Linked DNA regions of Homo sapiens: region 2 is linked to region 1. The links come from fine-mapping of genetic effects on gene expression. A gene starts in region 1. The other region holds a variant in brackets. All regions are shown on one strand. Distances are between the middles of the regions.

What was found. PIP is the estimated chance that this variant, and not a neighbour inherited with it, causes the effect.
Region 2: its variant is fine-mapped to the expression of EZH2 in esophagus mucosa (GTEx, PIP above 0.99). The same link has a PIP of 0.9 or more in sun-exposed skin.

Annotation. Positions count from the first base shown.
Region 1 is chr7:148,879,304-148,894,793 of GRCh38, forward strand. EZH2 (enhancer of zeste 2 polycomb repressive complex 2 subunit) reads right to left here and starts at 4,988. Exons shown (of 20, transcript NM_004456.5): 1 at 4,861-4,988. LOC124901767 (a long non-coding RNA gene) reads left to right here and starts at 5,886. Exons shown (of 2, transcript XR_007060579.1): 1 at 5,886-6,180; 2 at 7,054-8,493. It also overlaps the pseudogene RN7SL569P. RefSeq lists silencers at 4,152-4,741, 4,902-5,271, 5,392-5,621 and an enhancer at 4,242-4,933.
Region 2 is chr7:148,901,657-148,917,146 of GRCh38, forward strand. No RefSeq gene overlaps it. Among named protein-coding and RNA genes, the nearest start is that of EZH2, 25 kb to the left of the region's middle. The variant C/T (reference allele first, on the strand shown) is at 6,493.

The sequences.
Region 1 (15,490 bases):
ACTTTGGGAGGACGAGGCAGGTCAATCACTTGAGGTCAGGAGTTCCAGACCAGCCTGGCCAACACAGTGAAACCCAGTTTCTACTAAAATATAAAAATTATCGGAGGCTGGGCACAGTGACTGACGCCTGTAATCCTAGTACTTTGGGAGGCCAGGGCAGGTGGATCACCTGAGGTCGGGAGTTCGAGACCAGCCTGGCCAACATGGTGAAATCCCATCACTACTAAAAATACAAAAATTAGCCAGGCCTGGTGGTGCATGCCTGTAATCCCAACTACTTGAGAGGTGAGGCAGGAGAATCATTTGAACCCAGGAGGTGGAGGTTGCAGTGAGCCAAGATGGTGCCACTGCACTCCAGTCTAGGTGACAGAGTGACACTGCATCTCAAAAAAATAAATAATAAATAATAAATAAATAAATTAGCCGAGCGTGGTGGCGCACGCTTGTAGTCCCAGCTACTCAGGAGGCTGAGGCACAAGAATCACTTTCGAGACTCCGTCTCAAAAAAAAAAAGTATCTGGGTCAAACACAATGGCTCAGCCTGTCATCCCTGTACTTTAAGAGGCCAAGGCAGGAGGATTGCCTGGAGCCAGGAGTTTGAGATCAACGTGGGCAACAAAGCAGGATCCCATCTCTACAAAAAATTAAAAAATTAAATAAGTCACCACAATGGTGTGCACTGGTAATACCAGTTACTCAGGAGGCTGAGACAGGAGGATCCCTTGAGCCCAGGAGTTTAAGGATGCAGTGAGCTATGATCTTGTTCTGTCTTGCTATTGTTAATGGAAAACAAGACCAATTATTAAGAAACTGCTAACCACATAATCTAAACACAAATTTGTCATATTTTTATACCAAGTAGTGGAACAGTGGCAAGATATGGAATGGTGCAACTATCTTAGAAATTTACCAGCTGTAACTTTTGAGGTATCACTAAATTTGCTAATCTGTATTTAAATCATTTTAAAAGAATGATGAAAAGCATCCCAATAAATGATCCAATTACACTGTCGCTACATCCTTCAGTTTTAGCTCCAAAACCTACCTCAATTTACTCCAATAAAGAACTCATGAATTATAACAAAACAGCTTTTCAGTTAAAAGATCTACTACCCTCTCTCGCCCTTTCCCTTCCTTATATTTTTGCAAAGAGATCATCAATATCAACATTAAATCAAATTAAGCAAATACTATTACTAAATATCCAGATGATTCATCAAGTTCTCTCCAGTTGTCCGAGTGTAATAGTTGCATCTAAAGGATATCTAATGTTTAGTACTACAGATTATAACTAGGAAAAACTTGGAACTTGTTCACCTTGACAACTATTTTTCTTTGTAATCATTCCCTATTAAAGAGGGAGAAAAACACATTTCAAAGTTCCTCACATGAATACTAACATATCCTGTTCACTTTGCAAGTTCCTTTGTCAAATTATTTCCCTACATTTTTCATATTTCCTTAATTCATTCAACTATATTTAAAACCCCTATTCTCTAGCAAATACCAACGTAGGTACTAGGTATACAAAGAAAAAAATAAGACAGAGCCTCTACCAGGAGGCACTTTGACTGTAGGGAAGAGAGGGATGCATAAACAAGTGATTACAATACAATTGAGTCATGCTACAATAAAATATGATAAAACCCTGTGGGAACACAAGAGTGGGAATTCAGGGAAGACCTCCAGAAGGTAAAGTATGTATCATCTGACCATGAACCTTTCTCTGAATTTAATGAATTGCTGCTGTTCACTTATGCTCTCCCCCGAAGATTTCACCTACTCATATAGAATCTATCATGATTTACAGAAAATTTGTCATCTATACTGATATAAAGACTTCAAGGCTAATCCATAAATCATTGCTAATTAACCACAGAATACATTATATTGGAGGATTTGTCCTTGTTGGTTTTTAAAAAGCAGATCAACTTTCTCAATCACTGCTCATGTAAAGGGTAATACTGAAATAAATTCAGAATCCTTGAGCACACTACCTCAAAAGAAGGAAGGTATCCTGGGAAAATTCCAGTATGACTTGGAGAAATTTGCCTAAAATTTTTAAATGGCCAACATAAAGATATTCACTTAAATGTATTTGTGCAAGGCAAAGCTAGGTATCAAAGTATCAGAACTTTTTCTAACTACACTAGATCAACAAGTGTGTTTTAAGTCACTGCTACTTAAACTGACTAAATACATTCTCAATTGTACCAGAAAATAATTTAATATGAATTTTTAAACCAATTCCCCAAAGAGATGTTTTTCAAAATATCTCATGGCAAGTACAAAGAATAGTAATTATCAAATACAGAGAACACTCAAGGGCAAAGTTAGAAATTTTTATCCTAGGCTGGGCGTGGTGGCTCACGTCTGGATCAGCATTTTGGGAGGCGGAGGCGGGTACATCACTTCAGGTCAGGAGTTCGAGACCAGCCTGGCCAACATGGTGAAACCCTGTCTCTGCTAAAAATACAAAAATTAGCCGGGTGTCGTGGTGCGTGCCTGTAGTTCCAGCTACTCGGGAGGCTGAGGCAGGGGAATTCCTTAAACCCGGGAGGCAGAGATTGTAGTGAGCCCAGATCCAGCCACTGCACTCCAGCCTGGACGACAGAGCAAGGCTCTGTCTCAAAAAAAAAAAAACATATACACACACACACACGCGCGCGCACACACACACACACACACACACACACATATGTATCCTAAAATATCCGAATTTCTGCCAAAAATCTGCATAACTACCTTATCTCATAATGGACAAGATTATTAATAGGATTTTTTAAATACAGAATTAATAGTAACTAATATAAACGTTACTTTTTTGTTATAATGTCTCAACACTTAGACCAGCACCTGGAATGCCCGTACAGTGGTGTCAACACTCTCCAAAATATATGTAATAAATTTATATTGCATTTATTTGTCTCCATTTTTATGAAACCTTAAGTTAGCAGATGCACATTAGATCTTTATCATATAGGACAGTGCAACCAGAAGAACGCCTATGTTTTTCTAACTTGTTTTCTTGGAATATATTCACTTTCCACAAAAACGAGAATTTAAGATGCAGTGTTCCTGTTTCCGGGAAACCTTAAATATTACATCACCCAACACACCTCCGAAAAGAGAGAACAAGACGCTTTATATCTATGACTAGAATCCTACCTATTCCTAACTTTAGAGACCATGAATAGAAAATTAAAATATATCTTAAATACTTGTTTTCCTGCAAATAAAATTACAAATAAACAAGTTAGGATTACACACTTGTACAGTATTCCTAAACATGAATTAGTTGCTAATGCTTATGAAGAGTAATAGAAAATAAACTCCAAAACCCCTAAAAGTATAAACTACATTCAATTGTGACAGCATTCGTGTTTTTCAAAGGTTTATTAAATGCTGTTTTATGATGACATCAAAACGCCACAAAATTAAACTAATAATAACTTGCTTGAACCCTAAAAAGCAAGCCTTTAAGTAAATAGCAAAGACACATTTTTATTTCCAAATGAATTTAAATGTTACAGATCCTGTGTGATAAAGGAAGTTTAACTGTGGACAGCACACGTTAAATTTCTTAGGCAACAAACATTTCTCCATGCAGTCTTTTCTGAATCACCAAAGCTATTGTTCACAGAAAACGAGACCAATTAATAAGAAACTGCTAACCGTATAATCTAAACACACATTTGTCATAGCCATTCTATTTTGATCACCTACTTCTACCACCTCATCCTCATTCAACCCGTCGGGATTTGGGGAATAATCTGGCTGAATGACAGTTGATTTCGTTAGCACCTGTCGCCATTCTCAGATGTATCACACAAGTTGGCCAAAACAGCTTGTAATGTTTAAGGATTACGATTCTTTAGAAAGTGGCAACTCACTAGGCGTTCACCAAGTTTTCCAAAAGATCGTGCTTCTCGATTCCTCCCGCTTTCAAAAAGTAACCCTGTGGCACAGATTTTTGGGGGGAACGGAAGGGGATGTACACAATGAAGTGGGAATTCAACAGGACGCCCTCCAGAAACACAATCAATAGAGAGCAGAGCAGCTCGACTCTTCCCTCAAACTTAGCATAAAGCCAGACCAGGCGGCGAGGGCAGCCCGCGACCGCCGGAGCTCAGGGGGATTTCGGGGTGCGTCGTGGGGAAACGTCAGAGGCGAAGCTACTCCGAGTTCCCCGCCGCGAACGTCGTCCCGCGAGCGCCGCGGCCCCAGCCCGGGGTCGGCGCGCCCGGGACCGGGGGCGTGCGCGAGGCGAGGGCCGAGCCCTGCCCACCCCGGCAGCGGCCCGCGCCTCCCCACGCCCCTCTCCCGCCCGCCGGCGGGCCCGGGTGTCATGCCCCTTCCCCTCGCGCCGAGCCCTCCGGAGACACAGTCCGTCCTTTGTCTGAGTGCGGACTCGGCGGCTGGGTCCCACCAACTTGTGTCTGTCCCGTCCCACCCGGGCGCTCCCGCCGCGGCCGCGCCACACAAAGGAGACTTGAGGCTCGAGCTGCCACCCTGGACCGGGCACCGGAACGCCCCGACCCCGGCCCCGGCGCCCCGGCCAGGACAAGCACCGGGAAAGGAGCCCCCCACACGCCCCCCGCCCCGCAGCTCCAGGGGTGTGCGCTGCCTCACTCGCAGGGTCCCGCGGGCCAGCCCGAAGCTCACAGCTCCTTCCGGGGAGGGGGGCTCTCCCCTCACCCTCCACCCCCCGCACGCCTACAAACGCGGCGCCCCGGTGAGCCCCGCTCGGCGATACCCGGGACCGGCACAGCAGTGGCGGGGAGGTCCTGGCGCCGCCGCCGCCGCCCGGTTCGCACTCCCGGAGCCCCGCCGGCCGGGCCGCCCGCAGCGGCGCGTTACCTTCGTCCCGCGCGCCGACTCGCGTTGTTCCCGCGCGTCGCCCCCGCGCGCCGCCGCCGCCGCCGCCGGGGCTCCACTGCCTTCTGAGTCCCACCGGGTGTCGGACGCGACCGGACCGAGCGCCAAACGCGGCAGCCCAATCGCCATCGCTTTTATTTGGCCCCCCCAGCCCAATCAAGCGCCGCCCCGATTGGCGGGACGCGAGGCGGGCGCCCGTCCAATCACAGGGCCCGCCGGGCTCGGAGGCGCCGAGCCAGCCCCACGCAGAGTGCGCTCAGGGCTCGTGGGCGGGCGGGCACTGGCAGCGCGTGCGCGCGCGGGCGGCGGCGGGGTTCGCTGTAAGGGACGCCACTGGCCGTGTGGAAGCGCCGCCGCCGTCTCTTTGTTCTTTCGCTGAACACACGGCGCCTCTCAGGAAGGCGGTGTGCAGGCACGCGGGGACCGGGAGACATCGCGGGGGCCCGGAGCCCGCCGCGGACGGGAGGCGGGGAGGATAGGTGGCGGGAACCGGCCGAAGGGCGGGACGAAGCGCCGGCGGCTCTTGGCGGGAACCGGCGCCGCAGAGTTCCCGGGCGGGGGAGGGGCGGGGCGGGTGCTGGAAGCCAAGTTTGAACCAGTTCAAAACTCGGGGGTGGTAACGGTTTTAACCGCCGCGCTCGTTTCCCCGCGCGCGGAGCCGAGGCCCGGGCTGGCCGCTCCTAGTGGTGCCCGGGGAGGGGAGGGCGCGGGCCCCGGAGGTCGGCTCAGCTGTGGCGCCGCGTTTGCCGGGAGACGCTCGCCCGGCCCGCGCGCTGCCGCCGGACCCGTTACTACTTTTTTTTTTTTCTCCTGAGACGGAGTTTCGCTCTGGTTGTCCAGGCTGGAGTGCAATGGCGCGATCTCGACTCACCGCAACCTCCGCCTTCCGGGTTCAAGCGATTCTCATGCCTCAGCCTCCCGAGTAGCTGGATTACAGGCATGCGCCACCACGCCCGGCTAATTTTCTATTTTTAGTAGAGACGGGTCTTGGTCAGGCTGGTCTCGAACTCCCGACTTCTGGTGATCCGCCCGCCTCGGCCTCCCAAAGTGCTGGGATTACAGGCGTGAGCCACCGCCGCCGACCCGGGCCCTGTTTGATTATGTCTGCTGCTGCCTTGGCCGTTTTTTCCCCCACCGCTGGACTTTGGCTGGCCGAGCTTGCAGTGCTTATCGCCCTAGAAACCTGTGAAAGGGCGACATTGCTGCCATTTCAGACCCTTCCACTGTTCGTAGTTCTAAGCACGTGTCAGTGTTAAAAATCCTTTATCAAGATGAGCACTGTTCACTTGCCGCCTCTGCAAAGTGTGAGGATATTTGCAAGGCGCGGTGGCTCACGCCTGTAATCCCAGCACTTTGGGAGGCCGAGGCGGGCGGATCATAAGGTCAGGAGATCGAGACCATCCTGGCTAATAACGGTGAAACCCCGTCTCTACTAAAAATACAAAAAATTAGCCGGGCGTGGTGGCGGGCGCCTGTAGTCCCAGCTACTCGGGAGGCTGAGGCAGGAGAATGGCGTGAACCCGGGAGGCGGAGCTTGCAGTGAGCCGAGATCACGCCACTGCACTCCAGCCTGGGCGACAGAGCGAGACTCCATCTCAAAAAAAAAAAAAAAATTGATCTTGGTTATGGGGGGTCAAGCTACCTCAACCCAGAGGAATTAGAGGGATTCTGCTTAGGATACAGTCTCTCCTATTGCTTCATGTGGCAATGCAGTTAAGAGTATTCCGAATTTATTTTTACTAGGATGTATCTATGGGGTAAAATACCATTGTCATGTAAACTGAGATTCCATATTGAGAGTTCATACTGGAAACTGAAAAAAGGTCACCTATGAACTGTTGGGGTAAAAATCTGAAGAAATATTTTTAATGAATTTAATAACTAGCCAGAATTTTTTTTTTTTTTTTTTTTTTAAGAAACGGAGTCTCACACTGTCGCCCAGGCTGGAGTGCAGTGGCACCATCTCAGCTCACTGCAAGCCCCGCCTCCCGGGTTCACACCATTCTCCTGCCTCAGCCTCCCGAGTAGCTGGGGACCACAGGTGCCTGCCACCACACCCGACTAATTTTTTGTGTTTTTAGTAGAGACGGGGTTTCACCGTGTTAGCCAGGATGGTCTCGATCTCCTGACTTTGTGATCCGCCCGTCTCGGCCTCCCAAAGTGCTGGGATTACAGGCGTGAGCCACTGCGCTGGGCCAGAATTTTTCATCAGATGATTTAGCCCATAATTTTCCCGCCTTTCCTAAATCACCATCCCATTCCTCACATATATTCTGAATCACTCCAATGTTGGAAAGTATATATAAAGGGAAGCTAAAAGATAAGGAGAAACAAGCAATCATGTGCCCAGATAAAAGCAAAATTGTCTTGTGAATCAGTGATAACACTGCAAAAAGTAAATAGGTTATGCAGCTGAGATGTGACTGTAAAATAACGTAACGAATTATAGCTGCCATTACTTCCAGTCACGAATACATTCATTCTCCAAGATAAAATGCATCTGTCTAGGCCACCAATTTACAATTTTTTAAAACCAGCAATTTAAACCTCAGAAATTAACTACTTATCCCTAAGTTGCTTATCAAATTACTGAACTTATCAGTCCTGTAATACTAAATATTAAAACAAGGCATTTTTAAGAGGAAGATCAACGAAATTAGAGACTACCATAAAGCAAATCAAAGCAGTATATAACTCTGCAACATGGTGTGAAATGTCATGTAAATTGCTAGACGTTTAGAATCAAGGAATGGATGGATCAAGATATTCCAGGCCAGACTTAGTGGTTCACACCTGTAACCCCAGTACTTTCAGAAGTCGAGGTGGGAAGCTCCGAGACCAGCCTGGGCAACATAGCAAGACCCTATCTCTACAAGAAATTTAAAAAATAACTGAGTGTGGTGGCACAGAAGTACCTATGGTCCCACCTGCCCCTGAGGCTGAGGTGAGGGGTCTGCTTGAGCTCAGGATCCCAAGGTTACCGTGAGCTATGATCACATCACTGTGCTCCAGCCTGAGCAACAGAGTGAGACCCTATCTCTTTAAAAAAAAAAAAAAGTGATTGGACAAAATATAATTATTGGCACCAAGTGAATGTTAGGAAAAAAAAAAAACACGTACAAAGAACTTTATAGAGCAGCCATTCCCACTGGGAAGAGTGTGTAGGTTGGACTCTAACCATTAAAGAGCTAGGTGGGATGATACTAAATATATATAACAGACATTTAATATAAATATGATATGAAGGCTAAGGTGAAAAGGGATGCCAGTGGATCACAGTATTTTCTTGATTCAATGATGACATTGTCCATTTAAGCAAGGTAGTTTAGGCCACAGTAATGGCAGAAAAAGGGGATAATTTGAAAATATTCCAGAAGGACTTCATTGTATGTGGGGTTCATGATGTCTCGCGACTCCTTTCCGTATATGACAAATACAGCAAAGTTAGGAGGGGGAAGAAGTATTTTGCTTTTGCTACCAAAAGAAAAACTGTCTGAAGATGTCTAACCCAGGAAAGCAAGAAAATATACAGGCCTATTTAACAGACCTCTATGACTATTTCAATGGGAAAAAAAATTTTTAATGTGTGTAATGAATAGTAAACATATAAGCAAGTGTGTGTGTGAATGCCAGTTACTCAAGGGGCCTAGATGAAGCAGAAAGCCAGGCTAAACACAAAGGTGGATATGGAGGTTGAGGGTCACCAAGCTTTTTCATTTCTGTAAAGATTGTTCTGTGTGAACAACAAAGATTTGGTATTAAAGTTAAAAGATGAAACGAAAAACAGTTAAGCCCCAAAGTTGTAACCCCAGGGCCTAGCGTGCCCGGCACATAGCTGATTCTCAGGGTTGTCCTGGGGGAACTGGAGAAGATGGAGTGCAAAGTTAAGGCTGTCAGCCAGCAAACTTCCCTTTCCATCCCTTCACTTCTCAGAACCTCCCTTTCAACCCCAAAAATGGGATTTACTTCCCACATATTATACAGCACTCATTTATGGAGTGCTTACTCTGTGAATGATGATTATACCGAACATGAGGTGGTGATAAAAATAAGGCATGGGAAGAGGGGAGTATTGGGTGCAATTGCTGTAATTTTAAAACAGCTTGGGGCTGGATGTGGTGGTTCACGCCTGTAATCCCAGCACTTTGGGGACCGAGATGGGAGGATTACTTGAGTTCACAAGTTCTAGATCAGCCTGAGCAACATAGCGAAACCTCATCTCTTCCAAAAATACCAAACTTAGCCGGTCATGGTGCCTATAGTCCCAGCTACTCTGGAGGCTGAGGTGGGAGGATCGCTTGAGGCTGGGAGGCGGAGGTTGCAGTGAGATGGGACCACAGCACTCCAGCCTGGGAATAAAATAATTTTTTAAAAGCCACTTGGTTAAGGAAGCCCTCATTTTGAAGGTGACATATGAAGAAAAACTTGAAGGAGCTGAGGGAGCATTTACTGAGAGAAGACTGTTCTAGGCAGAGAGAAGGGCCAGTCAGTGCCTGGGCCTGAGGCAGAAGCGTGGCTGATGTGCTCTGGCACAGGAAGGGGAAGAAAAGTGGGAAATGATGTTGAAGAATGGAGGCGGCACAAGCAGATTTTTCAGCTCCTTGTGGACCATAGTTAGGTCTTTATCTTTTATAAAATGAGAGGATTTTGAGTGGAAAGGCGATTTGATCATTTAAACAAGATCATTCTAGCTCCTGTGTTGAAAGGATCCTGAAGCGGAGCCGGGGCCAAATCAGAGAGGACAGTGATGAGTCCGTTGTAATAAGCCAGGCAAGAAATGATTGTGGCTCAGACCAAAGTGGTAGCAGTGAGCTGGTGGGAAGTGGAGTCTGGATATATTTTGAAGGTATAAGCAACAGAATTTCCTGACAGATTGGATATAGGATACAAGAAAGATTGCATGTAAGAAGTATCAGTTCTCAATACAAGAAGCCTGAGAAGGGATGAGCTCTCATGAAGAGCCAGAGTGGCATTATACTGCAGCCTGGAACACACCCCAGGCTGGGGTCAGGAGATGTGTGGCATGTCGAGAAACCTTCATAAAGATAACATAATTTTTGGTTGTGATTGAAATTAACCTGATCCTTTTCGGAACCAGCTTGAAAGAGTCACCTCTAGAAAACCCAAGGAAGGTGTGGTAGCCAGCCTCTAAAATGCTCCTTTTTGGCTTTGTTTTTATTTTTATTTTTTTGTTTTTTTGAGAGAGAGTCTCGCTCTGTTGGCCAGGCTGGAGTACGGTGGCACAATCTTGGCTCACTGCACCCTCCATCTCCTGGGCTCAAGCGGTTCTGCCTCAGCCTCCCGAGTAGCGGGGATTACAGGTGCGCGCCACCATGCTTGGCTAATTTTTGTACTTTTAGTAGAGATGGGGTTTCACCATGTTGGCCAGGCTGGTCTCGAACTCCTGACCTCAGGTGATCTGCCCGCCTCGGCCTCCCAAAGTGCTGGGATTACAGGCGTGAACCAACATACCTGGCCAATGCTCCCGTATTATTAATACCACCTCCTGGTATTCACTGCCTTGTGTAATCTTCTCCCTTGTTGTGGGCTAGACCTATTGACTTGCTTCTAATAGGATATGGCCACAAAAAGAATGGGATGTTATCCCCAAAATCACATAATGAGGAGATCGTGACCTCCCAGCTCCTGTATCCCTTCCTCTGGCTGTAACAAGCTGCTATTTCAGCTTTATCTCATAGCTCCACCACCCTAAGTTCCAGCCATATTGTATTACTCACTTTCCCAAACAGAGTTTCAGCTAAACTGATCAAGATGTTACCATTTTAAGACGTTTAAGAAAGAAATTTGATCAAACAAAATAAGTAGACTAAAATAGATAAAAGCCTTTAGACTATCTAGAAATTCCCTGGCTGTTTTAAACAAATTCAAGTGTGAAACTGAGGAGTACTTGGCCAAAATATGGTTACAAACAACCCCTGGGCAGAGTATCATTTTCCAGATGGGACACCTGTCTTGTAAAAGACTGTTGAGGATTTGGGGAAGCAAAGAACTTACCACTATTCTGGGCTGTAACAAAGGAGAAGCTCAATAAAGACTAAAAAATACTGTACAAAGAGAGGACATAGAGGATCACTTGAGCCCAGGAGTGCTGGGCTGTAGTGGGCTGTGTTGATCAGGTGTCTGCACCAAGTTGAGCATCAGTATGGTGAACTTCCAGGAACTAGAGACCACGAGGTTGCCTAAGGAGGGGTGAATCGACCCAGGTTGGAAATGGACCAGGTTAAAACTCCTGTGCTGATCACTGCTAGTGGGATTATGCCTGTGAATAGCCACTACCCTCCAGTTTGGGCAACAACATGACCCCATCTTTTTTTTTTTTTTAAAGTCCAGGCGTGGTGGCTCACACCTGTAATCCCAGCACTTTGGGAGGCTGAGGTGGGCTGATTGCCTGAGCTCAGGAATTCGAGACCAGCCTGGGCAACATGGTGAGACACCATCTCTACTAAAAACACAAAAATTAGCCAGGTGTGATGGCGCATGCCTATGGTCCTAGTTACTCGAGAGGCTGAGGTACGAGAATTGCTTGAACCTGGGCAGCAGAGGTTGCAATGAGCTGGGATCACGCCAGTGAACTCTAGCCTGGGCAAGAGAACAAGACTGCCTCAAAAAAAAAAAATGGTTTTAGGAAAGGATAAGACATGGAAACAAAACCGCACAATTGTATAAGTAATCATCAAGTATTAGAATTAATGAGTGAAGTTAACAAGGTCACTGGATACAAACTTAGTTTACAAAAAAGTCCATTTCTGTGTATAACAATAAAGAGGAAATTAAACTTTTAAAGTGATATATACCATTTACCTTTGGGAAAATATCAAATATCTAGTCATCTGATGAAAGATGTGTAAGACCTATGCACAAAGCATTACAAAACAATATTGAGGAAAACTTTTTTAAAGCCCTAAATAGAGGGAATGTCATTTTTATGATTTGGAAGATGCACAGATTCAACATGATGCCAATTAAAATCCCAGCAGGATTTGTGAGTGCGTTTGCATCTGTGTTGTGTGTAGAAATTGACAAGTTGATTCTAAAATACATGCAAAATGCAAAAGGCCGAAAAGAGCCAAGAGAATTAAAGAAGAATGAAACTGGGCAACTTTACTACCAAATATCAAAACCTGGCTGTTTATTTTACTTTTTATTTTTTTTGAAATGGAGTTTCACTCTTGTTGGACAGGCTGGAGTGCAATGGCATGGTCCTGGCTCACTGCAGCCTCCGCCTCCTGGATTCAAGCGTTTCTCCTGCCTCAGCCTCCCAAATAGCTGGGATTACAGGTGCCTGCCACCATGCCTGGCTAATTTTTGTATTTTTAGTAGAGATGGGGTTTCACCATGTTGGCCAGGCTGGTCTCGAACTCCTGACCTCAGGTGATCTGCCCGCCTCAGCCTCTCAAAGTGCTGGGATTATAGGCGTGAGCCACCATGCCCGGCCAAAACCTAGCTTTTTAAAGCTGTTGTAATTAAGACAGTGATACTGCCCCAAAGGTCAACAAATAGACCAATGGGAAACAAAGAGTCCAGAAACAGACTCATACCTATATGGTTTATAACAAAGGTGGCTTTTCAGTGCAGTTGGGAAAGGATCATCTTTTCAATAATTGGTTTTGGGTCAACTGGCTATCCTTACGGGGTGGGGAGGGGAAATCTTGACCCCTGCCTCAAACCAGATGAGTTGCTGGTCTAAATGTAAAAGAAAACAGAATGATTTTGGAATAGTCAAAAAGTTCTTAAACAGAATCAAAAATGTGCTCACCATAAACGGCCGGGTGCAGTGGCTCACGCCTACAGTCTTAGCACTTTGGGAGGCCAAGGCGGGTGGATTGCCTGCAGTCGTGAGTTCAAGACCAGCCTGTCCAACATGGTGAAACCTCGTCTCTACTAAAAATACAAAAATTAGCTGGGCGTGGTGGTGGGCACCTGTAATCCCAGCTACTCGGGAGGCTGAAGTACGAGAATCTCTTGAACCCGGGAGGCAGAGGTTGCAGTGAGCCAAGATCGTGCCATGCACTCCAGCATGGGCAACAGGACAAGACTCTGTCTCAAAAAAAAAAAAAAAAAGTGCTCACCATAAAGGAAATAAGTGGTATATTGATCAATTGATCGTATATTGATCAATTGTTCATATATTGATCTATATTAAATTTAAGACTTCTGTTTGTCAAAAGACACCATTAGGATATTCAAACGGCAGGCCAAAGAATAGGGGAAATTCACAATACACTTCCCTAACAAAACACTTGTCATACAGATCATATAAACCACAAGACGATTTGAAAAAGAAAATGTTAGGAAATGGCCAAAAGGGAGATACCCTTAATAAACTGGCACCTAAAAAAGTGGATATACAGATGTCCAATAAGCATATAAAAAGGTGCCCAGTTTCATTAGTTATCAGAGACATGCAAATAAAACCATAATGGAATACCACTATATACCTACCCAATGGCTAAAATGAAAAAATACAGAAGATACCAAGTGTAGGTAAGGATATGAAGCAGTGAAAATTTTTATGCACTGCTAATAGAAGTGCAAGTTGGTACAGCCACTTTGGAAATTTGAGAAGAGATAATACCTGTGAAACTTGAACAAATATGGAATACTCCATACCGTAGCCATTCTTCTAGGTGTAGCTCTAGCAAGTATATGTTTGTATGCATATACACTTAACAAACGACATGTACAAAAAAGTTCATAATGCAAACTGGAAACTATCCAAATGCCCATCAAAGGTAGAATGAATAAATTGTGGTTAATTTACATAATGGAATATCCTACAATGATGCAGAGAATCTATAGCTACATACAACAATGTGAATGAATCTGATAAATATAGTGTTAAGTGAAAGAAGACAGAGAATATTTATCTTATGATCTTGTTTATCTAAGTTTCTTAACAGTCCAGGCATGGTAGCTTGCACCTGTAATCCCAGCACTTTGGGAGGCTGAGGTGGGTAGGTCACCTGAGCTTAGGAGTTCGAGACCAGCATGGGCAATATGGTGAAACCCCATCTGTACAAAAAATATAAAAATTAGCAGGGCATGCTGGGTTGTGCCTGTAATACCAGCTGCGTGGGAGGCTGAGGTGGGAGGATCACTTGAGCCCAGGAGGTTGAGGCTGCAGTGAGCCATGATCAAACTTAACAAAAAAAAAAAAAATTGGAGGTATCTACAAAAGTAAATACTACAAGCATGTTTGATCACTGCACCTAAAAAGATGAAGAGAGAGAGAGTGAGGTAGGGGTTAGGGAGGGAAAAGAAAAGAGATTCCGTTAAATGAAGACAAGGGATTGATCTTTAGGCTGAAAATGCAAAGGTCAAGAAGTGAATCAAGTGTTCAAACTATCTGAAAATATATACTACCAGGATAAAATGAACACAGTTTCTTTTTCACTGATTTCCAGCGTGTTTCAATGAAAAAGCACTTCTTGCATTCTCTGCAATGTCTACTGATAACAGTTGAGAATTACTTGACTTGGTAACTAGCTTAAAGAACTCATTACCCCCCCCCCCAAAAAAAACAGTATAATTAGACAAACGTAAAACAGTTCAAAATGTTTGCAAAAATATTGGAAAATCTGGGCTGTACACGACCCTTCATTTATTCATTCAAAAGACATTTACTTAGTGCTTATTTTGTTTTATGCCCTGTAGTCCCAGCTACAGGAATAAAGATGGGGGGTTGGAGGTCATGGAGACGTAGAGGATTCCTCAAGAAAGCAAGCAAGAGGAAAGCAAGGAAGGGATGTGGGATTTGGAGCAGAGGAGTAGTTAGCTATGCCAAGGTAAGAAGTTGGCCAGGTCAGCGATGGGACAACCTAGACCTGCTCCCAAGGCCAGAGTGAGCTGGGTGGCCTTCGGCAGCCCACTTCCATGGTTGGCGGGGCAGTTAACTCCTTTACCCCTAGAGTCATCATTACCTAGGACCTCAAGGCAGCATGTGTGACCTGGAACCTGAAACCAGGACAGAAATCAGATTTCTGACAGAGGCATTCCTGATGGGAATGGGGTTACTGGATAGAGTGAGTGAGCTTGGAAATCTAACTCTCTGGATAAAAGATCTTTCTGTCAACAAGATCCTGAACTTGATCTTATCCACTGTTCCCAATCCAGGGTGATGCCCTCCTCAAACTCTTGCATGTCCTTGGTGAGTTTGAGCTGCAAAGTTCTCTTGTCACCTTTTGTCCTAGACACGTGGGCCGGCAGGCAGAGTACCGTCGCACACACTCGCTGCTGATATCTGGCCTGTTGGCCCAGGTCACCCACTGGAAAGACAAGGCAACTCTAGTTTTGTACAAGTTCTATGACAGTCTATTAACATGTTGCCTTGCAATTCTTGGTGTACTAATAACTGCTGGCTAAAGACATTCCTGACATTAAAAGAACATGCTCTGATTCAGTATTTTACATGTGAGAAACATCTCCAATTACAGAAAATCATTCCTAAGTTGAGGAGAAAATATTTTCCCACTGATGAAATTTATCAAATTGGTATAGAATCTTCTGGGAAGAAAAACAGCAGTGATAAAACTTCAGCTGGGAGCCATATGTTTTTAAAAGCAGCCATTTTAAACTAAGGGCAATATATCAA
Region 2 (15,490 bases), 22 kb after region 1:
ACTGTAGATAAAGCTGTTTTTAAAAAAAAGTAATAATCTGGCTGGCCACAGTCACTCATGTCTGTAATCCCAGCACATTGGGAGGCTGAGGCAGGAGGATCATTTGAGGTCAGGAGTTTGAGACCAGCCTAGGCAACATAGCAAGACCGCAGTCTCTAAAAAATGAAAGTAATAATCCACAAATATATACATAAATGCATATGAAGTAGTATGTAAATTTATAGAAATACATATAATTAAATTTATTGGAGGAGAATATGCTAACTTAATTCAGTGGCTTTTTCCTTCCTTGATATTTTTAAATGGTTTATCTTTGAATACAATAGAAGTTGATTTTAAAATTCCAAGTGGTTTACTTGTCCAAATAGGCTTTTTTTCTTTTTTTTCTTTTGTTTTTCTCATAGAGACAGGGTCTCATTATGTTGCCCAGGCTGGTCTCAAACTCCTGGCCTAAAACGATCCTCCCACCTCAGCCTCCCAAACTGCTGGGATTACAGATGTGAGCCTCCATGCCCAGCCAGCTTTTTTACAACACATAAAAAATATAATGCAAACAGCTGGGCATAGGTTTAAATTTTTTGGCTGAGCACAGTGGCTCACACCTGTAATCCCAGCACTTTGGGAGGCCGAGGTGGGCAGATCACAAGGTCAGGAGCTTGAGACCACCCTGGCTAACACGATGAAACCCCGTCTCTACTAAAAATACAAAAAATTAGCCGGGCATGGTGGTGGGCGCCTGTAGTCCCAGCTACTCGGGAGGCTGAGGCAGGAGAATGGCATGAACCCTGGAGGTGGAGCTTGCAGTGAGCCGAGGTCATGCCACCGCACTCCAGCCTGGGCAACAGAGCGAGACTCTGTCTCAAAAAACATATATATAGAGAGCAAACAAAAACATTTATTTATTTATTTATTTTTATTTTTTGAAACAGAGTCTTGCCCTGTTGCCCAGGCAGGAGTGCAATGGCACGATCTCGGCTCGCTGCAACCTCTGCCTCCCAGGTTCAAGCGATTCTCCTGACTTAGCCTCCCAAGTAGCTGGGACTATAGGCGTGCACTGCTACGCCTGGCTAATTTTCGTATTTTTGGTAGAGATGGGGTTCCACCATGTTGGCCAGGCTGGACTAGAACTCCTGACCTCAAGTGATCCACCCACCTTCACCCCCAAAAGTGCTGGGATTACAGGTGTGAGCCACCGTGCCCGGCCAAAAAATTTAAACCTTAATAAATGAGTTGCTCTTTTATACCTGTATGCAGGCAATATGATGAAATAGTACAAGAATTTTATCAAGTTATAAATGCTTGTTTGGTTACTAACCTGAGTGATAAAATAATCTGTACCAGAAACCCCTATGACACGAGTTTACCTATGTAACAAACCTGCACCTATACCCCTGAATCTAAAATTAAAGTTTAAAAAAAAAGAAAAAGAAAAAGAAATCTTTGGAGCAGAAAAGCATAGAAACAATGTCCATGTCAGTTGGAAGTAGAGGTGTAGTCTCTGCCTATATAACTATTTCCATTCATTGAGTATTACAGACCAAAAATAAGATAAAATCCACTCTTTTTTATATCAGGAGGAATACCATTTAAACGCAGGTGATCACTCTATTCACTCCTGATTTTTCCCTTGCACTTCCTGCAGGCGTAGTTAGAAGACTAGCAAAATAATATAGTTCGCAGAATTCATTGAAAAACATCATCTAGTGGTACTTTTTAACAGAATCAATTTATTGTATTTTAAGCCATAAAAGATTATTCACTGTATCCACTGAGGCCCACATTTGACTGCAAGTAGCAGAAACCCTCTACTAACTATAGCTTAAGTCATAAGGATGGTTTACTCTTTACTTAACAAGAAACTCAGAGAAAGTCCATATCAGGATTGGTCTGCCAGCTTCATAAAAACTCATTAGACTCAGGCTCTTTCTGTCTTCTCATTTTGCATATTGGCTTATCATCCTCATGCGTGTACTCATGGTTGCAAGGTGGCTGCTGTAGTTCCAAGTATCACATGCAAATTCAAGGCAGAAAGAAGGGGAAGGGACTGAGTCAGCCCCTACTTTATCATGTATCAAGAAAGCAGAAGCTCTCCAGAAGCCTCCCTGAAGACTTCTCTGCATCTTATTGGCAAGAAAGGCAACACATGTCCATGGAACACATGTCCTAGCTTAAAGGGCAGCTGGGATATTTACAAGGAAAGAGAATGAGCTTGTCATGATTTCAAATATCAAGAATGATCTCCTCAGGCTGGGCACACTGTTGTCCTGAGCAAAGTCAGGGTTCTGTTAGCAGAAAGAAGAGAGGAAATGACTCTAAGGTACCCAAGCATCATCTGCACGTTGCCTTAGCTGCCCTTAAACACATTGCCTTCTCAATCTAATGGAAGCAGGAAAACAGAAAACACAGAATTGTGATTTTACCTTTTTGAGGGAAGTGGGGATACCTGAGCTTCTTTGAGCATCTGAGTAAGCAACAGACACTAATTCACCCCCAAATTTTCCAACAAGGAATTTTGGGGGATGTCCAGAGCTCCTAAAACCCATCTGTGGGTGACTACATGAAGAAGGCCGACCTAAAGTCAGCCCAGTCTTTCAACCTGGTCTTCCATAGTATACAGCTCCTGGGTTGTTCTGCTTTTTCCAGTTGGTTGTGTTGTGAGTCTGTTGGTTGCTGATTCTGTAAGAGGTAGTATAATTCCTTCTCTCTGTAACTGAGCTTGTAACTGGAAAAAATGACAATGCCTAAAATCGTATAACAAGAAAAATGGAATTTTCACTATTTCATGGTTCATTATGTTGAAAATAAAAAGACCAAAAGTTAAAAACTGAGTTCCTATTTCAAAGCACTATCAAACATCTAATTGCAAAATATTATATACAGGAAACTGCAGGGGTCTAATCCCTGCTGACAAAGAATTTATAATCTGAGACAATCTAGTGATAATCTCACTTGGGTTATCAAATGGGGGCAGGGCAGCAGATAATATTAAGTTATTAAATAAGGTAAGATTACTTTTAGAAGTATAAACTATTTTGAAAATGCAAAGTTCTGAAATAAGTCCAAACTCCATATTCTGACAAGTAAAATCAGAGATTGCCAATGTCTCTAATTATATCTGCTAAACAGATAGTGTACATACTTTGATTATGAAATAATGACATTGATTCTCAGGCGTGATTTGCAGAAATCAGTATCCTTACTTTGCAAACACACTTGGTAATGTGAGACAAATTTCTGGCAGCAGAATGATGATTCAAAATTCATTCTTAGGCAGAGAGAAAAGTATATAAAGGGAGTAGAACAAAAATTGTGGGAAATATGTGAAAATAATTTTTTTTTTGACTGGAGTAGGATAATTTGCTTTTCCATTTTATTTCCTTGTCAGTCCCAGTAAAGCAGTATCACGTGCAACTTTGTGCTTTTTTAAATATCTAAGCTTCTGGTTCAACTCTTCACATTGCTTCTCTAACAACAGACATTCTCCATGGCTCGTTTTCTTGCTTTCTGCTGAATTCTGTACTTTGTACTATTAATAGTTTTGATTTTGTGAAGACCTGAATCATTCTGTAAGCAGCTATGAAATATCTCCCGTGGCTTTCTGGCCTGGGGCAGATGGGAAAATTAACTCCAAGGAGAAAAGAGCACCCTAAACTGCCTTTTCTCAGGCAGACAGCCATTGATGTGATTTCAGTGAAAACCATCAAGCTGAAACATCAATATTCCTCCACCCTTGGTCCACAGAGCAGGCAGGGCTCATTAGCAAGCAGAGCCTCAGCTGGGTTCCATCTTGGGCCGGTCTGGGCTAAGGTTTCAACCCGGAGGCTGTGAGATCCTGTTTCCTCCACGTCTGAGCCCAGTTACCTAACCAGGTGCTTGTTGGAGGCTGCCTGCAATTGCAGCCCTTACTTTGGCCTCTTATTTCCTTCTGGCTCAGCCTCTAGCTCGACTCCAGCTGGCCTAGGTTGCTCCTGAGCACCAGTGGAATTGAGATAAATCACCCCAACCTTTACAGGCCTTCTTCGTAGGATGGAGAAAGGTCTGGGTCCCTGGGAAAACCGTAAAAATTGCCCTCTAAACATAATCAAAACTACAGTAACTTCACATCTATTTTTTCTTTTTGTATTTCATCCATGCTTTCTTTTTTCCCTTTTGTGACACAAATTTTTAGCAGAAACCTGACATTCTAGTAATCTAAAAGCTATTTTACTGTGGTATTAAAGACGTCCTATATAACAGAACTTGTGGTTCGTTTCATGAAAATTTATTTCCATACATACGAACTAACAATTTCAAAAACTCCAATGCATATAAAATTAATAAACCTGAACACTGCTTCACAGAACAACCATGGTGAAATCTACAAATTGAAATCGCTGTTGCAGCCCAGATATATGCACATTTTAAAGCCAGATGGCTTTCCTAACCAAATAAATGTCAGCCCTATAGTGAGAGGTCTTAGTACAAGGGTGGGAGGCACTGTAAGGACAAGTTCAGGCGTTGTTTAGGGTATCTGGGTTAAAACAACAGCAGAAGGTCAAGAGTTAGGTCCGTGGAACTATCCTGACGGGACAGACCAGAGTGGGCAAGATTCAGAGTAACCAAAGACGGCTCAGGTAGGAGAGAACCCTGGAGAAGAGACAGAGGGGGAACCAGCAACTACTGAGCACTGGATATATGCCAAGTGTTTACTGCTTGCTCTACATATATCAATTCTTTTTTTTTTAATTCATTTATTTTTTTTGAGATGGCATCTCACTCTGTTGCCAAGGCTGGAGTGCAGTGGCGCAATCTCTGCTCACTACAACCTCCGCCTCCCAGGTTCAAGCAATTCTCGGGCCTCAGCCTCCTGAGTAGCTGGGACTACAGGCATGTGCCACCACGCCTGGCTACTTTTTATATTTTTAGTAAAGACAGGGTTTCACCATGTTGGCCATACTGGTCTCAAACTCCTGACCTCAGGTGATCCGGCCACCTCAGCCTCCCAAAGTGCTGGGATCACAGGCCTGAGCCACCGCACCTGGCCTCAGTTCATTTAATCTCATGTTTAGCATGTGAGGGGGGTAGGTCTCCCCTTTTACACGTGGAGAAACTGGGTTGTATGGGAATTCCTTGGTCAGAAGCCTCCAGCCTATGAGTCCTCCGATGGTATAGATCCTATTCTCCATTTTATTTCCATCGTTCTGCACTGTGCCTTATACATAGAAGGCACTTAATAAACACTTGTTGCATAAGCAACCCTCCCTGACTGTCTTCCTGGTGAAACCTACCTGTTGGAGCAGATGGTACTGGACTTTAACAAGACTTAAGTAATTAAGGGTGCTCTGTTTCCTTTGAGTCTGGGGATCATTCATAAGCCTCCAGTGCCCTGATACAAATCAGGACCACATGCTCTGGACACATCTGAGTCTGAGCCGGTGTATTCACATCACGAAGGGGCTCCTAAGGTCAGGATCCTGGTTCGGCAGTCCAGGCTCTACAGTTGGTATCTCAATCTCACTTCATCCATTTTCTCTAAGCAAGGGAAGCACATGACATCTAGTATCTTCTCTCCATCTGACTTATTGCCCTCCCCACTCCTGGTGTCTTAGCAATCATATTGTGTCCTGTCTCACCAGGAACGTTTGATAAGATCATTCAGAACAAATGCAGATCACCAAAGGGATTATAGTTCTATTAATTTTGATTTTACATCTACGTTAGTCAAATTGATTCCTTCTGGGCTGAGATCTATGTGCATTTCACAATCGCTGTAACAGAAAACAGATCATCTTTTCATTTTCTGCTGTGACTTATTCAATTATACCTCTTTGCATCTAGAAAAAGCAAAAAGATTGTTTCTCAAAACAACTGAGCAGCTGAGGTGACTATCCGCGATTATGTGGGGTGATCACCAGTTTCCTTACAGCTGATGCCATCAAGTTTTTGGTGCTCCCTACCCACTTCCAACACCAACACACACACACACACACACACCCCACCTCCACCACCCCGTTTCAGTCCTTAAAGGGTCCTATAGCATATATTAAACTAATTTTTGTTTTACTTTTCAATTTTGAAAAAGTTATAGACTGAGAAAAAAAGTTGGCAAAATAGTACAAAGAATTCCCATATATCCTTCACCCAGATTCCCCATTGTTAACATTTTACCACACTGGCTTTAGCATTCTTTCTTTCTCACCCTCTGTTTCTCTCTCTTTTTTTTTTTTTTCCTTTTTTTTTTTGAGACAGTCTCGCTCTGTCACCCAGGCTGGAGTACAATGGCACCATCTTGGCTCACTGCAACCTCAGCCTCCCGGGTTCAAATGAGTCTCCTGCCTCAGCCTCCTGAGTAGCTGGGACTATAGGCGTGCACCACCATGCCTGGCTAAGTTTTGTATTTTTAGTAGAGAAGGGATTTTGCCATATTGATCAGGCTGGTCTTGAACTCCTGACCTCAAGCCATCCACCTGCCTCGGCCTCCCAAAGTGCTGGGATTACAGGCATAAGCCACCA[C/T]GCCCAGCCATGTGTGTGTATTTGTAATATGCATGAATACACAGTATCAAAACACAACTAGTCAGTTCAGCTAAAGGATAAACCAGTATTTCACGTTTCTACACACTAGATGTATCGCACCACAAAGCATAAGGCATCACACTAAATGCCAAGCCATACAAGAATTGTCTTGTAGACAGCACATGGGGTGAGAATGATTTGCTCCCTCCCCAGACCTTGGAAATAAGAGGAAACAGATGTCTCCAAAGAGGTAGGCTGGGAAAATCAGGTGGATCAAAACAAGCCTCCCGCAAAGGACTCACTCAGCTTTATATGCACATATCCGGCAGCCTGCCCGGGGTCCACACCTGTGGGCTGCGGGTCCTCCTGTGTTCCCTGCTCTACTTGGTGACACTGCCACAATTTCCTGGACTCACCCTCACATTTTCTTTCATCTCCAGCTTCCAGTCAGTTACCCAATTCTGCTCATCTTAGGACCTATTTCTCAAATCCCGGATTGGGGGCAGGGCTAGAGACCACTCCGGAGATGACAGAGCAGTCCCAGTGAGAGACAGAATGAGGGCCTTTTATTTGGAAGGGCTTATTCAAAAGACACCCAAAGGTGAGAATTTAAGGAGACACCATCCAGGAAGCTACCCTGCTAAGGTCTTATGTGTGTGTGGTGTGGTTGTTTGCTGTTACACTGTATCTTGTGAGATTAGTGCTAGCTAGTGTAATAGCTTGGTGTGTAAGGAATTTGGGAAGTGGAATTCTAAATGGATAGCCTGCCACCACCATGAAAGCCCCTTACAGGAACCACCCAAGTCCCCTGGCAGTTTGTCAGAGTGAAGGAAAAGACCCCAGAAAGCGGCACTCGGGAACAGCCAGCAGAACTCACCGGCCAACCCCTAGGAATCTACCTACACTCATCTCCAAATTGCCAAGCAATATCTACACATTTTGTTGCATTAAAGGTGAGCGTTAAGCACAGATGTGTGGGATAATCATTGTTTGTAGACACTCTGAATAAGATCAAGCCTGAACCAGAAAGGAGTTGTGATGAGGATGAGAAGAGAGAAATTCTAAACTCTAAAGACGAAACGGGCTGAACTCAGTGACTGAATGGGAGAAGGAGCAGGATGAGCAGAGGGAGGAAACCTGTCCTTGTTGAGCCTCTGCTATTCGCCAGGTGCTTGTCGGATACTTTCCATATTTAACAGTATTGATGCGAGACAGCCATCATTCCTCCCATTCTGTGGATGAAATATTGACTTTCAGAGAGGTGAAGTGATTTTCCCAGGATCACACAGCTAACAAGGAATAGGACTGCCTGATAACTTGTATCCTTATTCCTTTTTTTCTTTTTAAGTAGTACAATTTAGTCTTCGAATGAATTTTTAAACAAAAGACCAACATGAAAACAGATCAGCTCTGGTCGAAAAGCGGTGAGGGAAAAGGCAAAACTAAGGAGACGGTGAAAAGATCAGCAGGTGCCAGGATCTGGGAGGAGGCAGGGACAGAGCCCAGAGGATTTTTGAGGCAGTGAAACTACTATTATGACTCAACCAAGAGTATTCCCTAATTAACCTATGGCCTGTGGGTGATAATGACATGTGATGTATCTTCATCAATCGTAACAAACGCACCGCTCTGATGCAAGATGTTGATGGTGTAGGAGGCTGGGGGAGTGGGGCAAAGGGCAGGGAGTATATGGGAAGCTTCCACTTTCTACTGAATTTTGCTGTGAACCTAAAAAGGCTCTAAAAACATAAAGTCTGTTTAAAAAAAAATTAAATAAGGGGTCCAAAGTTTCCCCCCCTTCTTAACTCACTCCTCCCTTTGGGTGGTCCCTGATGCCACCAAAGGTCTTCAAGGGCTTGAACATGTACAATATGAAAGCCACTGCCCCGGCTGGGCACTGTGGCTCACACCTGTAATCCCAGCACTTTGGGAGGCCGAGGCAGGCGGATCACCTGAGGTCAGGAGTTCAAGGCCAGCCTGGCCAACATGGTGAAACCCCGTCTCTACTAAAAATACAAAATTTAGCCGGGCGGGGTGGCAGGCACCTGTAATCCCAGCTACTCAGGAGGCTAAGGCAGGAGAATTGCATGAACCTGGAAGGTGGAGGTTGCAGTGAGCCGAAATCATGCCACTGCACTCCAGCCTGGGTGACAGAGTGAGACTCCAGCTCAAAAATAACAACAACAACAAAAAAAAGCCACAGCCTCACAATCCCCCACCCCCACCCCACAAGGAGAGCAAGAACCCAAAAGCAGCCCTCTCCAAATGGTTGCTGCACCATTCTCTCTTCTAAGCACCTGTTTCTGGCACCCTTCTAAGCAGCCTTTCTTTCTTCTAAACATCCTCCCCCAAACAGGTAGCAGGAATCTGTCTTCCAGAGGGTGGTCCTTGCAGGTGCTAGCACCACCTGAGACCTTCCAGCTCATAAAAAGCTCACCTACCCTGTCAGAGGAAAGGGAACCAGATAACCAAGATGGTCCAGCCTCACTGCTGCAGCCTCCAGGGGCCTCCTCAGGCCCACACAGTGGGAAAAAGAATATCTAAAGACAGAGACATGACACAAATGGCTCCAAGACTCAGAGCTCCCACACCTCCTACAGTTCAGAAAGGAGAAAGAAAGAGGGGGAATACAGAAGTTTTCACAGCTCCATCTCTCAAGACTGCAGGCATCAACAGCCAACACAATGCTGACCCCCAGAAAGCATTTAACAAAGGCATGCTGACTAAGGAATTGCTAGGTGCTTCAGGGAGAATCTTTCCCCATCAGCTAGGGGATCACTGAACATAGTATAACAGTTGTAACAAATGATTCCAAGCAGGGAGAGGAAGTATCTCTTCCAGTCTCCTGAGCTGTGATTCAGGGGTGATGAAGATTCTGGGGGGAAAACTGGTTTGAAGAAGCCCTCCTTGTCATATAGAACCCTTGGGGGCTGCAGTAGCTCTTCTGGGTCCCAGTATATCAGTAACTGTCCTGAGGAATCATGTTTTCTACAACCTAATCTTGTTAATCAATATGAACAGAGGGGCCGGTCATGGTGGCTCAGGCTTGTAATCCCAGCACTTTGGGAGGCAGAGGCGGGTGAGGAGTTTAAGACCAGCCTGGCCAACATGGTGAAATCCCATCTCTGCTAAAAATACAAAAATTAGCAGGGCATGGTGGCATGCACCTATAGTCCCAGCTACTCAGGAGGCTGAGGCAGGAGAGTCGCTTGAGCTTGGGAGGCGGAGCTTGCAGTGAGCCTAGATCGTGCCACTGCACTCCAGCCTGGGTGACAGAGTGAGACTCCATCTCAAAAAAAAAAAAAAAAAAAAAAAAAAAAAAAGAACAGAGGGAAGCAATGGCTCCGAATATCTCAAATAACTTTCTAAATCCACTAATATTTTGGCTTAACAGTGAATTACATGATTTCTAGTAGGTTCACATTCACTTATCCTATTAAACATTGTTGAGCTGGATTGTATGTTCCAATCATGGCTCAGCACTTTCTCCCAACTCACATGCTTTTCTGCATTCACCTTGCTACACCTCCTTAATGGGTTTGACTAATAGAAGGTAGCAGAACAGATGCCACACCCATTCCCAGCCAGGGCCTTACTGGCACAGCAGTCTCTACTTCCTGCCTCTTTGGAGTGACACTGCCATGCTTTGATAATTCCACACCACAGAGAGGCCATGAGCTGGTCCACACCCTAGCTGAGCCCCCAGCCAGTGACGGCATCAACTGCAGCCATGTGAGTGCATCATCTTGGATGCAGCCCTGTTGAGCCTTCAGGTGATGCCAGCTCCAGCCACTCTCTGCAGTACCCTGAGTGAGAAGGACTCCAGTGAGCCCAGTCAACCCAACAGAGACATGAGAGGTGTATTTGTTTGCTGGAGCTGCTATAACAAGGTATCACGCTGTGTGGCTTAAAACAGCACGATTTCATTGTGTTACAGTTCTAAAGGCTAACAGTCTAAAATCAAGGTGTTGGCAGGACCATGCTCTTTCTGAGGGCTCTAGGGGAGGACCCTTTTTTCGTCTGTTGCAGCTTCTGGTAGCCCCGGGCATTCCCTAGTTTGTGGCAGCATCACTCCAATCTCTGCCTCAATCTTCATGTGGCCGTCTTCTCCCTGTGTCCAAATTTCCCTCTTCTTATAATGACATCAGTCATACTGGATTAGCACCCCCACCCCCCAATGACTTCATCTTAATTTGATTACATCACAAAGACCCTATTTCCAAATAAGGTCCCCTTCACAGATACAGTAGTGGAGGTCAGGGCCTCAACATGTCGTTTTGGGGGATACAATTCAATCTATAATGAGAGATCATGGTATAATGAATTGTTGTCTCTCCATTTTGGAGAAGTTCATGATGTAACAGAAGAAGCCAGTACACTGGCTGACATTCCTCCAGTGCATACCTGGTCATGCCAGGGACACAAGCTGGATGTCTAAGGGTGCTTAAATCATAGCTGCCAGTCTATGATTTAAAAGTGCAGGTTACTGAAACATATTGCTCAGAAGTTTGCGTGACTTGGTTTTCATATAGAGTTGTGTGTTGTTTTTTTTTTATAAGGTGTTCTGTTCATTAATCTCTGTGTAATTTTTTTTTTAATTCAAGATCTTTACTCTAAACCTGTTCTCTATAAAGAGCAATGGCCGGGAGTCAGAGGATGTGTGTCTGTCCCTGACTAACTGCATGATCTCAGGCAAATCCAAGTCTCTCTCGGGATTAGCTTCGTTCATTCAGCACCTTTTTACTAGAATCCTGAAATACGTTTGAGGTGAAACGGGATTTAGGGGTTCATACAGCCCAGCCCCTAACTTTACAGATCAGGAAGCTGAGCCCTGGGGAAGTTAAGGGGCCTGCCTGGTCCTCAACCGGTTGTATTCTGATAGTATTCACCTGTAAAATGTGTTTGGAACACAGTTTCTCAAAGGTTCTTTCCAATTGTTAAACTGAATTTGATTCTTAAACTGTGGATCTGTATTTTACCCATTTCAAATTAAAAGAAAGATACTACATTCGATTCAGCTGAATGCATTTCTGAGGCTCAGAAATTATGACTGCAAAATCATGTCACCACAATTTCCTTTACTTTGATGCTTATGAATTAGGAAGCCAGTGAATAGAAAGTTTCATCAAACCATCAAAAGCTAAAATGATTTATTTCTGTACTTTCAGTGTTCATGACTTTGAAGGTTCTGTTTTTACTAATCTTAGCAATGTCTTCATACTTTTAAAAGCCCCCAAAATACCTGGTTATGGCAAAGTTGAGTCACAGGGCTCATGTGCAATAAAGCTCAGCCCTGGAAAGTGTACCCATGCCTGGTTTAATAGCAAAAGGTAATATGAGACTAACATACCAAAAAAGGGTGAGTGTTCACTCGTAAGTCATCTCCTGTGAAATAGGAAGAAATCTTAAATGTCGTTTGGATATGTGTTGGGGTTGTTTCTTTGAAACATACATCTGATTCGTTCTCCAATTATGCCTGGTCCCAGAGTCTAAGGCTTTAACAATCTGCAGGAACATTTATGTGAATGAATTGCTTTTAGAAATGAAAGGCACATTGTATAAGATATAAGATAGTGACATAAGCATGTGCGGGGTAAAAAGACATTTTTATAGTGTATCATGGGAAGTCTTGGATAACTGGGATTAACATGCAGGGTTTAAGACCGTTATGTTCTGCCATGGTAGCAAAACCTGATAATACGAATTAAAATGAACAATCGTAAAATGCAAACATGTTTGCCACATAATCAGGGCGTAAGATCAATCATGTTGGCTCTGCTTGTTGAGTATCTGTGTCAGGAGCCCACATGGAAACAGAAAGGAATGATTCTTTGTTCCTGGGCAGAGGAATAGCTTCTGCCACTCTGTTCCCAAATCTTTGTTAAATTATTTGTTGATGGTTCATCTCCTCGTCTAGGCTGTGAGTGTCTGTGGGAGAGAAACTGTCTTAATTCTCTTCATTATCAGGGCCTGCCTGCACCTTGTGTACTAAAGGTGGCCAAGAGCCATATCTCCAGGCCCTGCCTGGCAGCAGAAGCAGTGGCGGGACTGCGATGGGAGAGGTGGCTGCAATCCTGGGGGGCTTGAGACAGACAGATTCTGCCCCCAGAAAGCTACCGGTAGTTAACAGGTGTGTTCTGTAGCCATACCTCTCCCCACCCAGCCCTGTCTTCGGTGCAATGCCGTTCATGCCTCGGTGCTGTCCAGGGAAGCTCTGGCCTCAGTGGCTGCAAGTCCTCAGCTTCCCGCAGCCTCCCCCGCAGCACCTGCTGCGGACTCAGACAAACCAAGAGCACTGAGTTTTCGGAGATTGAGAGCATGACTCACACATTCCAATTATGACACAGAGGGAAGTATTCTCAAGAAAGAGAGCTAGGGAAGTAAAGACTTTATTGGGCCCCTGTTTGGGCACACTACCATGTGGCCCCCTCTGGTGCCACCTGCCAAGGGCCTTTCCCCGCTGATGGGAGGGTCTGCCCCTGGCCTTGCCCAGGCATTTCTGCACCTCCTCCACTGAGGCCAGCATTCCAGCTGGGCCCACAGCCACCCTTCACCCCTCTCCCAGTTCCTAGAACAGGAACACGCTGTTGTGGTTCCCTGCAGCAAGTCAGGTGCCAGGTGCATGGGCCCCACTGCTCCGGGTCTGGACAGGAAGGCAAGGACCAGCTGGACAGTTACTTTTTAAGGTGAAGGTGGAATTTGTTGGGTGACATCCCCCCAGTAGTTCCTGCCAATGCCTGAGCTGACTGCACTGTGGCTACCTTATAACTCAGACTAGAAGCTCCTTTGTGAATCGTCTTTTCCCCTCCTCCCTGATCATTTTTATTTAATACCCGTGAACAAATGGGAGCCTAGTTCTGCTTTTCTTTTTTTTTTTTTTCTTTTTTTTTTTGAGATGGAGTCTGGAGTGCAGTGGTGCAACCTTGGCTCATTACAACCTCCGCGTCCCGGGTTCAAGCAATTCTCCTGCCTCAGCCTCCCAAATGGCAGGGACTACAGGTGCCTGTCACCATGCCCCACTAATTTTTGTATTTTTAGTAGAGATGGGATTTCACCATGTTGGCCAGGCTGGTCTTGAACTCCTGACCTCAGGTGATCCACCCACCTCAGCCTCCCAAAGTGCTGGAATTACAGATGTGAGCCACCATGCCCAGCCTGCCACTGCTTTATATTAAGGGCATCTAGTAGGGGCCCAGTCAATATCAGTGAAACCAACGAAGCGATTCCTAACATTTGCATCACACTTTCCACTTTACAAAGCAGCTTCCTGGAATCGTCTCTGAAGAGTTAGGACCTGCCCTTCACTCAGGTACCTGGCAGTTCAAAGTTCCTGGTGAGCCCCACTCTTCGGAGAAGGAGGAGGAAATGTGAGGGGTGTTGCCTCGGGCTCCACTGCAGAAATAAAAAGACTGAGAAGAACGCTCTGGGGCTCTCAGTGACCTTTGACGGAGAGGTTCAACTATCAGGTGCCTCTGTGGGTTAGGCGCTCTCCATACCAAAAATCACACTTATCCTCGCACAGCCATAGGAAGAGGGCATTATCCCCACTCCACAGAGGGGAAAATGACAGTCTGAAGATATTAAATAGCTTTCCCAGCCTTGCTCAATGACTCACGCCTGTAATCCCAGCACTTTGGGAGGCTGAGGCGGGAGGATCATTTAAGGTCAGGAGTTCAAGACCTGCCTGGGCAACATAGTGAGACACCTCCCCCCACCATCTCCACCAAAAAAAATTTTTTTTTAATTAAAAACCAGGCCAGGTGCAGTGGCTCACGCTTATAATCCCAGTACTTTGGGAGGCTAAGGTGGGTGGGTCACCTGAGGTCAGGAGTTTGAGACCAGTCTGGCCATCATGATGAAATCCCATCTCTACTAAAAATACAAAAATTAGCGGGGCGTGGTGGCACACACCTGTAGTCCCAGCTACTTGGGAAGCTGAGGGAGGAGAATCACTTGAACCAGCGAGTTGGAGATTGCAGTGAGCCGAGATCATGCCACTACACTCCAGCCTGGGTGACAGAGCAAGACTTCGTCTCAAAAAAAAAAAAATCAAATTAAAAGATTTTTTAAAAATAGCTTTCCCAAGCTCACACAGCTAAGAAGTAACAAAGCTAGGCTTTAAGCCCCAGTCCTGCAGACTGCAGAGAATAATTTATGTTTCATTTGATTACATCACTAAGCTTCATTCCCTTGTGCTCATTCTTATTTTGTTTATCCAGAAGCCTTACAAAGTTAAAGGATTAGAGAATCCAGTTGTGTTTTGTCTGGCAACCTTACTGGGTCAGAGTTCAAGTATGTAAGGGCAGTCGTCTCAAAATGTGGTCTGTGGACCACAGTCCAAAAATGTTACCATTCTGCCAAGAGATAAATACAAAAAACTGAGATTAGCAATGTAGAAACTTTTAAGGCAGGATTCTTCAACCTTGGCACTACTGATTTGGGGCCCAATAATTCTTTGTTGTGGGGGCCGTCCTTTGCACTGTCAGATGCTTCTGAGCATCTCTGGCTTCTGCCCATGAGATGCTAGTAGCATCCCCCTCCCCAGGGGGGACAAGCAAAAACGTCTCTGCTATTGTCAAATGTCCTCAGAGGTGGAGGGGCAAAATCAAGAGCCCTCCCTGCCTCTTCCTGGTTGAGAACCACTAACCACTGGTTAAAAGCAATTTGACAGAGGAATGGTATGTCTGCTCCATCTAATAATTTTTAAATTGGACCTTGAATTTTGTATGTTTCTGTTGTTTTTTAATTTCATTTTACCAGTAATTCATTTTTATTGATTGTACTAAAGTATCAGTCTATAAGCCTTTGGAGAAATAAAAAGCAAAACAAAACTGGTCTTTCACCATTGATGGGTTTAGAAGCCCTGACGGAGGAAGAATACAACCAACATCTATGTGTAAGAAGGCCGCTGAGAGGAGACAGAAAATATCCAGCAGATTCTTTTGCTATCTTGTGGCTTGTGAACCTAAATATAATCTTTTTAAAAATATATAATCTT